Linked DNA regions of Homo sapiens: region 2 is linked to region 1. The links come from fine-mapping of genetic effects on gene expression. Tissue or cell type: blood mononuclear cells. Region 1 holds a variant in brackets; the other region holds the start of a gene. All regions are shown on one strand. Distances are between the middles of the regions.

Region 1 (8,000 bases):
TGAACCCTGGAGGCAGAGGTTGCAGTGAGCCAAGATCACGCCACTGCATTCCAGCCTGGGAGAAAAGAGCAAAACTCCATCTCAAAAAACAGAATAAAACACCATCAGAAACTCCAAGCAGATCTGCCTGAGTTGGGAGGAAAGAATGATTGAGGGGATCCAGTTCCATCTCTACCACGAATTCATTTTTGTTATTTATTTATCTACTTATTTAGAGACAGGGTCTCACTCTGTCACCCAGGCTGGAGTGCAGTGGTGCGATCATAGCTCATCGTAACCTCAAACTCCTGCACTCAAGCAATCCTTCCACCTCAGCCTCTCAAGTAGCTGGGACTCCAGGCACATGCCACCATGCCTAGCAAATTGTTACATTTTTTTCGGAAGTATGGGGTCTCACTATATTGCCCAGTCTGGCCTTGAACTCCTGGGCTCAAGCAATCTTCCTGCCTCAGCCTCCCGAAGTGCTGGGATTACAGGCATAAGCCACTGCACCTGGCCTCTACTTATATGACTCTAAAGAAGTCACATCCCTGGCCTGGGCCTTAGTTTCCTCATCCGTGAGCAGAGCTGGCCGATCAGACCAATCCCTGCCAGCCCTGACACTATGCACTCCTCCAGCAAGCAGGAAAACAGTAGTGTGTCTTGTTATTTCTGAGCAAAGGCCTTAATTGTTCTCTACAGCATGAACTCCTCTATCTAAAAACCACAACATCTCCTCTCCTCTCCCTCCCCTGCCACCCCCTTCCTCCGAGATCCACAAGACTGTTACAGAACATTCATTTATTTTTCTTCGGTGCTTGGGCTGAAAACTCTGATGACTAAGCCATTGAATTTTAATACGCTACTGTGCTCCTTGGAGGGTTTCTTCATTTCCCAGATCCCCCTCCCCCACCCCCTGTGCCCTCTGTAGACATGTGGTAGTCGTTAGGAACAGTTTGATGAAGTTTAGGTTTTCAGAGTAGAGGAGAGATGGGGGCCAGTGGGTGGGAGGGGAGGGAGAGGCGGGGGAGGTATGATAAATGGACACAACAGTCCAGAGGCCACTCAGAAAATAAACATAAAGCTCCTTTTGAGTGAGCCCACTAAAAACAAATTCCCCAAAAGCTTTTTCCTTTTTGTGGGGTGGTAGGGGAGGGAGGGGCGGGGCGGGGAGGAAGTGCTGGTGGAGGTAGGAGAGGAAAATTCTCTCAATGTAAATGGACTCTGTTCAGAGAAAGAAACAATTCTCTTTATTGGCAGCAGCAGACGTGCACGTCGGATGCTGCCAGCCATGTGTCACGACGGCCAAGTACTCTGTAGCTGAGGCCAGGCATTCAAATTCTGGGTGCTCGAGAGGCGGCAGCCCTCAGAAGAGCAAGCCAATGCTGGTGGAATTCCATGGAGAAACCTGGGTCACCACGGCAGACAGGGACAGACTCAACTGGCCAGGAACACCCCACTGGGGCTCAGTCTTGCTGACTTTCTGAAGGTCCCTGGCATTCTCTTTCCTGGACCCCAACCCTGGCCTCTTCCCCATCCTGACGGCATCACTCCCTGCCCCCATCCCACATTTCCATCCCCGTAGTTGAGAAACCCTAAACCTGGGCCCTGAATACATGTCTGCATGTTTGAAAATACTTGTAACACAGAGAAAAGGCAATATTTGAAACAAAAAAAATCCTAGACTTTGAATGGTAAGATTTCACTTGCAACCTGAGTTTCTTCTCCAGTGGGTGAGTTGAAGGTTTGAAAAGGAATCACCCTAGTGGGGGAAAGTGCATCATCTCCAGTTTTTGGTGTGGATTTCGTTTATGTTTGTTACACAAGGACTTGGCCAACCAGGTGCTATCTGAGAAGGAAGTATCAGTGTTCTTATGCTTTCCAGGAGGACATTGGAGACTTCCCTTATTAAATTGCCTTGCACACGGGGGTTTTTTGGGGTACCTCCCCAAGGATCTCTTAAGCACATTCTTCAGATACACTGTAAATGCTAAGAAAATGAGAGTTCACTCCTCTTCAATTTTTATTATAAATAATGCACAAATGTATGTAAAACATGCTCCCTATTTTAAGATTTCTTTTTTAGACAGGGTCTGGCTCTGTTGCCCAGGCTGGAGTGCAGTGGCTTGATCTCGGCTCACTACAACCTCTGCTTCCCGGGCTGAAGTGATTCTCCAGCCTCAGCCTCCTGAGTAGCTGGGACTATAGGCGCCAGCCACCATGCTCGGCTAACTTTTTAATTTTTTTTGGAGAAACAGGTTTTCTCCATGTTGCCCAGGCTGGTCTTGAACTCTTGGGCTCAAAGTGATCCACCTGTCTTGGGTTCTCTTGGATTATCAAAGTGTTGGGATTACAGGCTTGAGCCACTGTGTCTGGCCTGATGTTTTTCTTGTACATATTTAAGAAGTCAAGTAAATAAGTTCAGATGCTCACAGTAGAAAAATAACTACCTCAGAGCTCCTGGAATGAGGAACACGAAGCAGAAGATGCCATCAGTCTGAGAACCCACTCTCTCCTCTTAGTGGATGCTAGGGATGGGGACAGGACGGCTGACATTTCCCAGATCATCCACTGCAGCAGCGTGGAATCAGAGGGCCTGGGTTTGATTCCTGCTCTGCCACTAGCCAAAACCTCAGGCAGTCATTGGAACTTGCCGTGCCTTTACTGCCTTATTTGTAGAACAGGGATAATGACAGGTACTGGAAGGGTATTGGAATGCTGCACCGGCAGGGTGGGCCAGCCACTGCGTGAGTTTCCTGGGGCTTCTGTAACAAAGTACCATGAACTGGGAGGCTTTAAACAGCAGAACTTTATTCTGCTACACTCCTGGAGGCAAGAAGTCTGAAATCAAGGTGTCGGCAGGGCCCTGTTTCCTCTGGGACCCTGGTAAGTTTTCCGTTGCCTCCTCCCAGCTTCCTCGTCTGCTAGACACAGCCCTCCACATCCCATGCATCCTCCACGTGTGCCTCACCCTGTATTCAGATGCCCCTCTTACTCTAAGGACACCAGGCATGTTGGATGGGGGACCCACCCTACCCAGTGGGGCCTCATCTTAGCTAACTACATCCACACCTACTTATTTCCAAATAAAGTGACATTCCGAGGTCCTAGGGGTTAAGACTTCAACATATCTTCTGGGGGACATGATTCAGCGCTGATGCCCCCCACAGCCTTATCAGAACAGCAGTTGCCCTTTGTGTTTCTTG[C/A]CAGTTTGTGGCCAAGGAGAGGAAGCACCACTGACCAGGCCCCTGGGGTAGTGAACACGATGGAGAAATGCCCACTGTGACAGGAACAGCCCCTTCTCTTTTTGTGGTTGTTGCTAAAAGGGGGATTGGTTTTACAAACGAATGCTGTGGTTTTCATCGGGAAGTGCCTCTAAGCTGGAGCTCAGAGGATGGAAGCACTCGATAGGAATTAAACTGGGAGAAATTCCTGGCTCTGTTGTTTAGGGCAGATTTGCTGTGGTCACAGCAGATTTGCTTCTGTGAGATCTGAAGATATTCCTTGCTTGGGCCACCCATTTGCAGTAGCACCTACTTCTGGGTGGCAGAAGAAACAAAGGAAAAGAAGGGAGGGGATTCAGCCTCTGCCCCTCCATGACCTAGGCCACAGCTTGGTAAGCTTTCTCTAAGGGTCAGGTAGCAAATACTTTATGCTTTGTGGACCATGTGGTCTCTCTCACAACTCCCCACCTCGTCTGTTGTAGAGCAAGAGCAGCCACAGACAACTTGCAACCAAATGGTAAGGCTGTGTCCCAACGAGCCTTCATGTGTGGACAGAGAAATTTGAACTTCACACAAATGCCATGTGCCATGGAACATCATTTGTCTTTTGATTATCTTTCAACCATTTCAAAATATAAAAACCATTTGCAGTGGATGGGATTTGGCCCACTGGCCCTAGCTTGTCAACTCCTGATTTCCACACTCAGAGAGGTTGTGTGTGCTTCCACAGCCTACCATAGCTGTCACACCACCTAATTTTTCAATACAACTCCACAGTTCATAACATTTTCATACAATCACGTGACTCGATCCTCTCATCCACCCTGTTGGTAGGCACAGTGGACATTATCCCCATTTTACAGATAAGAAAATCAAACAAGTCAAATGTCCACTTAGCAAGTGGTACAGCCAGACTGAAACTTACGTCTTCTGGCTCCTTATCTGGTGACCCATCAGCCAGAAACACTCCAGACCAGCCCTTTTCTCATGGATGCTTCATGCACGGATGCACAACGATCCAAGTCAGCATGTAGTTCCCCCAATGGCTCTTTCAGAAATCCTGCCGCAGTCAGGGTGTTGATGCAGGGCTGAGAATTCTCCTCTAGAATCCTAGCTCCCCGACCAAGAGGACTAGATGTAACACTGGCCTCAGAAGGGTGGGTGGGCAGCTTCCTGCATGGTTTCAGGATCAAACATAGCCCACGTATCTTTGAAAACATCTAATCTGTTCACCACTGTAGACGGTTTTCCTTTTTTTTTTTTTTTTTGAGATGGAGTCTCATTCTGTTGCCCAGGCTGGAGTGCAGTGTCACGATCTCGGCTCGCTGCAACCTCCGCCTGCTGGGTTCAAACTATTCTCCTGCTTCAGCCTCCCGAGTAGCTGGGATTATAGGCACCTACCACCACACCTAGCCAATTTTTGTATTTTTAGTAAAGATGGGGTTTCACCATGTTGGCCAGGCTGTTCTGGAACTCCTGACCTCAGGTGATCCGCCCGCCTCAGCCTCCCAAAGTGCTGGGATTACAGGCGTGAGCCACCGTGCCCAGCCTGAGGGCTTTCCTTCCTCCACCTCAGAGGTTGACAACCAGATGCTCTTGGGGACCAGGCATGCAAGGTAAACAAGTGGAGTTTGGGGGGTGGGAACAGCATTTGCCTATCTAGAGGGGGCAGATGCTATTCAGCTCTAGCCAGCTGTTGCCAGATCAGGGACTCTCCCAAGTTTTAGATGATAGCATATCGTCAAGTTTTGGGTTTTCTTCGTTTTTTTAAAGAGTGCTAGGTTGAAAGATGTCCCTAGGCTACTGTGTGACGCCTTTTGCCCTGAGGGCTGCCTCTTGACTTTAGGCAGCTGATACCTTGTACTACATACCTAAAGTTGATTCTCTTTCCTGAAAACACTCATTTACTAGCAGCCAGAGGTGGGGATGGGTGGGTTTTTGATGGAGATGAGACAGGGAGTAACAAGCAGCCACATGACCCTGGATAAAGCTGTATAGGGACGGGTGATGGCGGGGAAGTGCAGGAAGCTCGGCTTTTAGAAGTAGATGATGAACACTGAATTATTCAAGACAGGTCCAGCCCAGGGCAGAAATAGAAAATAAGTCCTTGCCATGTCCTGATTCAGACTAAATTGAACTTGATGACACCCTTTCACAAGACACCTTTGATGGAAATGAAGATAATAATCACTGATGCCATCCAACATGGTGATTGATAATGCTCCCTCTTTCAAACCCTCACTGTGTCCTTGAGTCCCAGGAAGGTGCCTGGCTTGGGTCCAACCATCCAGACTCTGGCTCCAGGGGAGGGAGCTCTGAGGTAGGAGGGTACTTCCTCTGGGTTCATATGCTAAATACATACAACTAGGCCAGGAGTGGTGGCTCATGCCTGTAATCCCAGCACTTTGGAAGGCCAAGATGGGAGGATTGCTTGAGCTCAGGAGTTTGAGACTACCCTGGGCAACACAGGGAGACTCCACCTCTACAAAAAATAATTAGCTGGGTATGGTGGCACACACCTGTGGTCCCAGCTTCTTGGGAGGCTGAGGTAGGAGGATTGCTTGGGCCCAGAAGGTTGAGGCTGAATGAGCTGTGATTGTGCCACTGCACTCCAGCTTAGGCGACAGAGTGAGACCCTATCTCAAATACATACATACATACATACATACATACATACATACATACATACATACAACTTGCCTTTGGAACCATGGAAGTCACTGTTCCCCAACTATATGCTCCTTGATGGTGGAAACATGTTGTACTTGTCCTTATATCCCTAGCATCCTGTGAGCCAAACCAGCAGAGGCTTGGACTGGCTAATGCTAGACTGTGTATGGCACCTAGCAGGGCTCTGTGCTTGCCAAGCAAACACATGGAAATCAACATTTACAGAACATCCATATACCAGGTGCTTTTTCTGATTTGATGTTTATAATAAATCTAGGTGGGTACTACCCAGTGGTCATACTACTTCTTATTGATGGTATCCAACTTATTAACCTTGCCAACCCTCAGTTTCCTCATCTGTAACTAAAGATAATGATAGTACCCACATCTTATTGGGTTGCTGTTAGGAGTAAATAAAATAATAAATGTTAAATGTTTATCACAGTGCTTGGCATACAATAAGAATTCAATACACTGTTGATTGTGGTTTGCTTTTGTTCTGACCTCTTATTTGGAAATAATTATAGAGTCACAGGAAGCTGCAAAAAAAAAAAAAAAAAAAGAATACAGAAAGGTCCTGTGTATTCTTTGCTCACTTTCCCCAGATGGTTAAATCTCACACAATTAGAGTATAATAGCAAAACTAAAAAACCATACACATTGGCAGGCCAAGCGTGGTGGCTCACGCCTGTGATCCCAGCACTTTGGGAGGCCAAGGCAGGTGGATCACGAGGTCAGGAGATTGAGACCATCCTGGCTAACACAGTGAAACCCCGTCTCTACTAAAAATACAAAAAACTAGCCAGATGTGGTGGCGGGCACCTGTAGTCCCAGCTACTCGGGAGGCTGAGGCAGGAGAATGGCGTGAACCTGGGAGGCGGAGCTTGCAGTGAGCCAAGACCACACCACTGCACTCCAGCCTGGGCGACAGAGTAAGACTCCGTCTCAAAAAAAAAAAAAAAAAAAAAAAAACCAACCAACCATACACACTGGAATAATGTTGTGTATGTATAGTTTGATATCATTTTATCGTATATATGGTTTATTTCTATAACAACTTGATAACTATCATGAGACGCAGTTCAGAGCTGTGGTTAAGTGTACAGCCTCTAATTCCAGACTGTCTGAGTTCTAAAGTTGGCATGGCCACTACTAGCTGTGTGACCTTAAGCAAATTACATAACTGCTCTGTGCCCTAGTCCCCTAATCTGTAAAAGGGAAACAACAATAATAGCGTTTCTTAAAGGCTAGGAAGATTAAATAACTTAATATATATAAAGTACTTAAACCGTCCTGACATTTAGCAAACATTCCATGATTTTTAGCTTTTTTTAAATTAAAAAAATTTTTTTAAATTTTTTGTTATAATTATGTTTACTATTTTTACTATTCCTGGGTCCCAGAAAGGGAGGGGAGTGAGGAAAATCTTGGCCTGACTTCCGCCACAGGGCTCAGGCCTTCTTTTCCTTTGGTTAATGGTTGTGATGCTTTATGGAAGTGAGCCAAGGATACACCAGGGGTCTACTTTTGTTGCTTTGTTTTGGAATAAACCCATGTTACAATTTTGAGAGAAAACTCCAGGCTGTCCAGGCCTGCTCTTGCAAGGCCCGGGGTCTCTCTGTTGGGGAACCTCGACCGACTCCAGGTTTGCTGCTTCAGAGAGTAAGCTGGCAGGGGATGCAGAAGGGATACAGTGGGCTGGTTCTACTCACTTCTCCACTGGACGAAGCCAGCATTTGACCCCAGACAACAGCATCCCCAGGCATTCTGTCTTCTGCTTAAAGACTCCTCCTCCATCTGAACTGTGGCCCCTTGATGGGCTTCATGGCTGAGTAACACTGGCAGACCTCCGAGGAGAGGGATGGAACAGGGCCTGATCTGACAACAGCCTCCCAGAGAGAAGTGACGGTGGCTACACAGTCTGGCTTCAAGGTCAAAGTTCCTAAAACCTTGCATCCCTTTATGCACTAGTACTGGGGCAACGATCTAGAAAAGTGAAAGGAACTCAGACACCTTTGACTGCATCATGGGCATCACTCTAAAGCAGGCTGGAGGGAAGGAATAACAATAATTATAACAAGTGAGACCCTGCCTCAAAAATAATGATATTTGGCCGGGCGCGGTGGC
Region 2 (8,000 bases), 88 kb after region 1:
CTGTAATCCCAACATTTTGAGAGGCCGAGGCAGGAGGACTGCTGGAGCCCAGGAGTTTGAAACCAGCCTGGGCAACATAGCAAAACCCTGTCTCTATTTAAAAAAACAAAAGGTGGTGGTGGAGCTGGGGGGTGGGGGTGGGGGGGTAGGTGGTGCCAAAAGACCAACTTATAAAGGAAATCCCAAGGAATGCTGACCCTAGATAAGAAATAGTTCTTTGGTTGGAAGCCCTTTAGCAGAAGACATCTGTTTTCTAGCAGCTTCTGGCCACTTCGCATCTTCAGGGTGTCCTGGGCAGGGAGTTGGTCTTCCTTATTTCAATTTGCAGTTAGAAAAGCTGGGAGAAGCTTCTCAATGTGCTGGGCACCTGTTCTGCATGAATATATGTTTTTGTTTTGTTTTGCATTTACAGTTCCACCCTTATTCTTGTTTGGCTTATAGGGTTAGGTCTTCAGTCTTTTCTCCTAGGAGCCTGCCTTTACTTCTTTGAGTTCAGTTTGGGCCTCCTCTCAGCCAAAAGTACAGAACTCTTTCCCTCAATTATGACCACTGGAGATGGAAATCCCCTGGCCCTCCACTTCCTGCCCTGGAGCTGCTGTTCCCAGTGTTGATGCCACAAACCTGGAGGGTGAGGCACAACAAGCAGCTGTGACATCATCAACTGAGATTCAGGACTGACCTTAGCTCTGACCTAAGAGGAAGAAAATTAAGCAGCAGATGCTCTTCAATTCCCAGCATCTCCTTTGGCAGTGCCAGAATTTAAAAACAAAACCAATAATGTCAAAGTAAGCCATGCTTGGTACAGAGTGTCTTCAAAATGGGCCTAACATGTCAACTGTTCTCGAAAACTGGGCTAATCAAAAAACAAAGCATAAGATCTGAGAGCTATAGTCCAGTAAGAAAAACAAACAAACAAACAACAACAACAAACCAGAAAAACAAAGCTGTTTCTTCTCCACCAGCATCTAGAACCTTAAAGGGGCCTACCTGGATTCAAACTGGATTCAAATTCCAGTTTTGCCATTTAACATCTATGTAATGTTGGGCAGATTATTTAACTGCTGGGTACCTTGGTTTCCTTATCTGTAAAATGGGCATCATACTATGCAGTAAGTACCTACCTAATAGGCTTGCTAGGAGTACTTGAGTTAAATACAAAGTGCTGAGAATAATGACGACACATTAAGGGTTATTTTGCATTTCAGCTATTATGATTATGTTAAACCATGTTTTGACTTCTTTTATCCCTTTCCAGTCCCCACCTGACCTCTTCCACTGCCTGCTTATTTGCCACTGAAAGCTGCCCCCCAAATGGCCTTCCAATCAGATCGTAAGGCTGTTTAACCATAATACCATTCTGAACAGTTTATGGTGCTGACTTCTCAAACTGAAGTCTTGTAGGTAGTTTGCAGTTGAATGCAATGTCACACCCCCTAACATTGTCAGGGAAAAGGTCATGTGCTTTGTTTCCATCCTTTGCACCAAATCCATGCTATCTTCAGGGAAGTGCAACCACCCAATGGTTCCTTTCCCAGACTTGACCCCATGCGGTTACCTATCTCTTCCCCTTGATGGGCCACCACTCTTTTCAGGAAAGAACATTTAATACAATGCAAGGTTTTAACCAATGGCTCACTTGGTTGGTGACAGCTTGGAAAAATCAGGTCTCAGGAGACAATCTGTGGTTACTTTTCTGGGAAGGGGAGTCGGGGTCCCCAGGTTTCATCATTCCTGGGCACATATAGGTAAGAGCGAACCACTACCCCTCCATCCCCCAAGAGAGCGCCTGACAGCATCCTTCAGCCCAGCAAAGCACAAGGCGCAGCACCAGATCTTGGGCTTCCCACTTCCCTCCGCCCATCTTACTTATCCAAGGTTCAGGTCTTTAAGTTGGGACCCTTTGGTTGCTGCTATTGAGCTGGGGAAAACTAGGGGGCAGAATCAGTCAATCTAACCAGCTGTTGGGGAAAGACAGCAGCTAGAGACCTAGTCAATCACGGTAAAGAGCCACGGGGCAGTAAGTTTCATTTCAAGAGAGGTTCAGGAATGGCTTGGTCAAGAGATTCAATCTCACCCAATCAATGAACAGCCCGCAGATAGTAACAATGCCACGCAGAACAGGATGGAGATCATTCACAAGTTTACCCTCCAAAAGTCAGACACCCTTAGAACAATCTCTGGCAAGTGCCATGTAATGAACCCTATCCTCAGACCAAACGTTTTCTCCCAAAGAACTGGCACAGCCACCAGCTTTGTCTCAGGAAATTCACTCCCCCAGTAGCCCAGGGCGGGATTTCTTGCCTACCCAGTCTGCCAGTCCGAGGCCCGCGCGCTTACCATTGGCGTTCTTGCCGCAGATGAGATGCTCATAGGGCTGCAAGACGCCCCAGAGCTCGGCGTCGTTGTTGATGACCATCTCCAGGGCCTCAGCAGACACCTCCCCGCCTCCGGCCCCTCCGCCATCAGGGCTGTGGCTGGCCATCACCCTGGCCCGGATCTCCTCCACCAGGTTCTCCATGCAGGCGGTGAGGGAGATGGCTGCGTACTCGTGGATGCGCACGGAGATTCGGGTGTCCACCATCCAGCGGAAAAAGCGACCCACTGAGAAGGTGAGGCCGCAGCGCGCGGACTTGCCCCGGCGCAGCCCGTCGCCGGCGCTCATGCTGTACAGGGACAGCGCCTTGACGGCTGCCAGCGCGCAGCTCTCGGCCAGCGCCCAGCTGTGCACCAGGCGCACGGCGCTCTGCACCTCAAAGCGGGTGCACTTGGCGTGCAGCACGCTCAGGCGCTGCGCCTCGCGGGCCACGCGGATCAGTGCCCTGCGGAGCAGCCCGGCCAGGCGCCTCACCGCCTCGGCGGAGAACTGGGGCAGCCGCCGGCCGCCAGCGCCTTTGCGGAGCACCCGGGCCACGTCTCCTTCGGTCCAGGGGAACTCCTCCAGCTCGGGGAGCCGCGGACAGCGCGAGAAGAGGTCGGCCACTTCGGGGTCCTCGGGCAGCACCGTGTTCACCGTGTCCCAGCTGTTGTGGCGGCTGTTCATGGAGCCGGAGTAGCACCACCAGGCCGCCCCGCGGTGCTGCTGCGCCGAAGAGTTGAGCGCCTGCGAGTTGGACTTGGAGGACGAGAGGCTGAGCGAGCGGCACGAGTCCCCGGCCCCATACCCGGAGTCCAAGGTCAAGTCCTCCAGCGTCTTCAGAGTCGAGCTGTACGTCCCGGCCATGGGGAGCCTGCCGAGGGCGGCGTCGCCGAGCGAGGGGCACTCACAACTCCATGCCCTCTTTCCCAAGTGGGCAGAAACAAGCTCTAGGCCCTCCGGGCCACCCTCCTTCCTCTCTGCGTCGCGGGGCTCGGCGGCCGCATTGCCTGCCCGGAGGCCGCGGGAAGGTGGCCGAGATCCGTGGCCAGCAGGAGCCCCACGCTCCCGGCGTCCCGACTCGCAGCTGCCACTGGAAAGAACCCCGTCGCTACCCCCCGGCACTCCCCCTTGTCCACCTCTAATTCCCACAAGCAGAGAGTCAGTCCTCCACAGAGAAGGAATCCCGGGAGAACAGGGCGGCGGCGGCAGAAGGAGGAGGCGGCGGCGCAGGGCGCAGGGCGCAGCGCGAGTCCGGGACCAGCCGGCGAGAAAGCGCTCTGCAAACTTCTGCGCTGCGCCGGCCGGCAGCACAGCTGGGTACCCGGCTGCGTCCGACATGCAAATAACCCCGGGCGGCTTACCAATCACCGGCCGCGATGGGCGGGGCTGCACCAATGATCTCCGAGGGGGCGGTCACTATGCAGATTTCACTCTGCCTCGGGTTAAACCCCGCGGCGAAGGAGGCGGGGCTGGAGGCCGAGGGTCGGGCACGCGGCTGGGATGGGGGTGGGGATGGGGGGGGATGGGGGGGATGGGGGGGTGGGGGAAGGGCGAGCCAGCCAACTGGGAGGTGGAGGTGGAGACCGGAAAGCAGCGGTCGAAACGATAGCTCCGGAGCTCACGATTTAAAGAAAAATGCAAAGGAAAAGCTACAGGGCGCTGCCACCTTCCCGCCACCCAGGCTTTGGGCGTTCGCTGCTCGCTTTCGAGCCCTCCGCAGCCAGGCGTCCTGGGGTTGGGGCCAGGAGAATGGGGAGGGCCCCATCCAGGCGCTCCACCTCTCCTCCACCTTCCGCCAGGCCCCTCCCGCAATCCGAGATGAAACGCTGGCTGTGTTTGGAGGGAGGAGGGAGTCCCTGCCTCTCTTTCCAAGTCCGTCTGGTTCCTTTGCGCTGCCGTCTAGGCTCCAATAAGGACAGAATTTCTTAACCTGGTATCTGATCAATGGACGGGCCCCAGGAAGCCTGTGAGTGCCTCCGCCCATTTGTGGTTTCACCTGCAGTTTTCTGAGTGCCACTATGGGGAAGGGGCACCAACTTTTGTCAGATTCTCAAGAGGATCCGTGACTTCCCTGTTACCTCTGTGTGACGATACCACTTGCTGTCAGGTGGGTCCTTTTTGTCCGAGATAGACAGTGTTCTTACAGGAAGAATGAGAAGAAGGTGGCAGAGCAGTCCCTCGCCCTGGGCTGAGCTCGGAACACCTAGCTGGATGCAGGTGTTCGCCTCCTAACGCGTGCCGGTGGGCGAGCCGTATGCCCCCGCGGGACCCAGTTCCTCCGGGGTACAATGAGTGGCTGACCTCCAGGCAGCGCCAGTGCCAACCTGCCTCCGGGCGGGTGTCCCAAACGGTCCGCCAGAGCGCTGTTGGTTCAGCAGTCCCATGCCCGGTGCAGGCATGTCCCGCCGCTGCCCTGTGGCTACTCACACGCACGTGCGCAAACGGACCTGTGCCCCCTCCAGTGGAACCGCAGGCTCAAGGCGGGGATTGTGCATTCGCTCTCCCCAAGTCAGCCTCCCCCACTCCTGAATGGCTCCTTTGTGTTGCATTTTACACAGTTCTGACCTTGGGCCGTGAGTTGGATATGAACTAGAAATGTCTGGTTTGTCTCTTTCCTTCTTAAATTAATGGCCTTTACCCCCGGTGAAACTGCTTTTTATTTGGCAGTTTCGCTTAATTTTGCCTTTCCGCGGGTCTTTATTTATGCAACATCGCCGCCCGATGGTTAGAATTGGGAACAGAGTCAAAGATGGAAGTACTGTAATACCAAAGACGCAAGTCAGCAGAGATCAAACTAACAAAGGAGAATGCAGTCACACTTTACAGACGTGAGATTAGAAATTAAAGTAGGCAATGAGGTCCAACTTGTCAAAAATACAAAAGTAAATTTTATGCAATTTAAAACTTTATTGGGGAAATATAATATTAAAGGCAATGTCGCCCTCTAATGGATATATTCAAAGGAAATGAATTTCAGAAAGGTTTCCCTGTCCCCCCTTTTCTTCGTTGTGCGCACCCATCAAACCTAAAGAGAATTACTTAACTGGAAATTTACAACGGGGAACTTACTGAATGAAAGGTTATTGGAGGAATCATCTGGAGTGGGAAAAAGAGCCTATGGGATTTATATTAATATATTCAAATTACTTGATGACTTAAAGTGTAGATAATCAAACATGCCTCCAACTGAATCTGAGAATCCTGTGAATGTTGACCTGCAACATGAAGATATATTATGCAAAATTCAGCCATGGGAAATGCTTCTGAACAAACAACTGAGTTTCTTTAATAAATAAGTTTCAAGGAAAGAAAGAGATGGAGAGAAGACCTACACATTTAAAGAGACTTGAAAGACATAATAACCAATTACAAGGTGTGGAACTTATGTGTATTTTGAATTTGTTTTAAAAAGCCAGTAAACATTTGACATTATGAAACCATTAGGAACACTGCCTCGATGTTTGCTCTTAAAGAATAACTGTTTTTTTTTTTTTGATGTGGTAATGGTAGTGTGGTTATATTTATCAAATGTTCTTATCTTTTAGAGACACATGCTGAAATAAGTGTTTTGTAGCCCTCAAGAGTTGGCTTCCTCAAGGAAAAAAGGAAGACAAATCCTCATGGAAAAATCTGGTAAAGGGACTAGGAAGTTAGGAAAGACTGTAGATAGATCTCTTGTCTTTCAAATTTTCCTCAGTCTTCTAGTCAGCCTGAGGACTGGCAGTACCAAGTAAACCCAGAATGTGTCTGTGTTTGTGTTTTGTGTGATATGGGAAAAAGAATAGGAGGAAGATAGATAGAGATGAATATATATATATATATATATATATATATATATATATATATATATCCAGCCATCTTAGAATGAACCAATTCTTTGATTTCAGTTCAACTTTTGGGAGTTGGCCAGTGTGGTGAAATACAAAACTTTGGGTCAAGGAAAGAAAGGACATGGTTTCTTATATATACGTGCATGTGTTCAGTTAAGCCAATCTGCTGGTAATGTGTTTGATTTTAAGAATGCAAATTATATTAAGAGAAAATGTCATCCCAACTCGGGCCTTACCCAAACATTATTTTTGAAGAAACATTGTTTTTGAAGAAAAACAGCTGTCATTAAGCTGGACAAGGAGAAAAGAACATAACAGAACACTGGCAAACATTGGAACAATTCCAAGTGGAGTTGACAATTAAGAAGCAGATCTCGGATTACCCACGCAAAAATCATGTAACAGAGGTAGCTTGAAGTAAACTTTAGAAACTTTACCTGGTGTGAGGTCTTCTATGTGCTTACACAATCAAAAACAATCTGGAAATTAGGAGATAAAATACCCTGGAATTTACCTTGAAAGTGAGGGTGTTATAATCCCAACTATTTACAGACAGAACTGTCTCATGAGAAAGGTAGATTATGGCCTTGACTTTGGAGAGTGGCCAAATTTTAATTTAGTTTGTGGATCACCTTCAGTGCATTTGGCAGATGTAGATCTTTAACTCCCACAGGTGGTTTTAATCAACTCTCCTAGTCAGGAGGGAATGTCTTTAAGCAGAGAATTAACATGTTCAGGCTTACAGAAATAGATTTGAAATTAATTGGAGAAAACTAAGTTTATAGAGCAGAGAGCATTACCTGCTTGTTTGTTGGTTGTCTTTCTGTCCTACAAGAATATAAGCTCCATGAGGGAAGGGATCTTCTCCATTGAGTTCACTTTTGTATCCCATTGCCTAGGTCAGTATGAGCGTAAAGTAGGAGCTCAATAAATATTGAATAAGTGAATGAATGAAACTAACAGGATGAATGGGGCAATGTAATGAACAGCTAGGTTTCTTTTTAAACTCTCAAGGAACCAGCAGGTGCTTAAGACTGTGTGTTAAGGGAAAAGGATTACTGACATCTGAACTGAGATTTTCCTGATACCTGCCTCCTCCATAGACTTTAGGAGAGTCATGTGCTCCCCATCCATATTATTATTATTTTTGAGACAGAGTCCCACTCTGTCATTCAGGCTGAAGTGCAGTGGTGCTATCTCGGCTCACTGAAACCTCCACCTCCCAGGTTCAAGAGATTCTCCTGCCTCAGCCTACCAAGTAGTGGGGACTACAGGCATGTGCCACCACTTCTGGCTAATTTTTGTGTTTTTAGTAGAGACGGGTTCACCATACTGGCCAGGCTGGTCTCAAACTTCTGACCTTAAGTGATCTGCCCGCCTCAGCCTCCCAAAGTGTGGGAATTACAGGCATGAGCCACTATGCCCAGCCCCCACCCACATCAGAAAGGGGTTCCTAACACCTTGGGGAGGTGGGCTTAGGAAGTGGGGAGTGTCTTTGAATCACCTAAAATTGCCTACAACATTTTTAATATGAGTACATATTTGCATATTCTGGAGAGAGGGTCAATGCCTCTAGGCAGGACTGTCTGATAGAACTTTCTGAGATAAAGAAAAAGGTTCCATATCTGTGCTATCAAATACAGAAGCCACTAACCACTTGTGGCTGCAACTTGAAATCTAGCTATTGTGACTGAAGAACTGAGTCTTAAATTTTAATTAATTAATTATTTTTGAGATGGGGTCTCACTGTCACTCAGGCTGTAGTGCAGTGGTATGATCTTGGCTTACTGCAACCTCTGCCTCCTTAACTCAAG

What was found. PIP is the estimated chance that this variant, and not a neighbour inherited with it, causes the effect.
Region 2: it holds the start of ABTB2, and the variant in region 1 is fine-mapped to the expression of ABTB2 in blood mononuclear cells (TOPMed, PIP above 0.99). The same link has a PIP of 0.9 or more in monocytes.

The regions. Positions count from the first base shown.
Region 1 is chr11:34,265,887-34,273,886 of GRCh38, forward strand. All of the region lies in intron 1 of ABTB2 (ankyrin repeat and BTB domain containing 2), which reads right to left. Among named protein-coding and RNA genes, the nearest start is that of ABTB2, 88 kb to the right of the region's middle. The variant C/A (reference allele first, on the strand shown) is at 3,186.
Region 2 is chr11:34,354,364-34,362,363 of GRCh38, forward strand. ABTB2 (ankyrin repeat and BTB domain containing 2) reads right to left here and starts at 3,647. Exons shown (of 17, transcript NM_145804.3): 1 at 2,338-3,647. The coding sequence starts at 3,220. RefSeq lists an enhancer at 2,573-2,682 and a silencer at 3,633-3,832.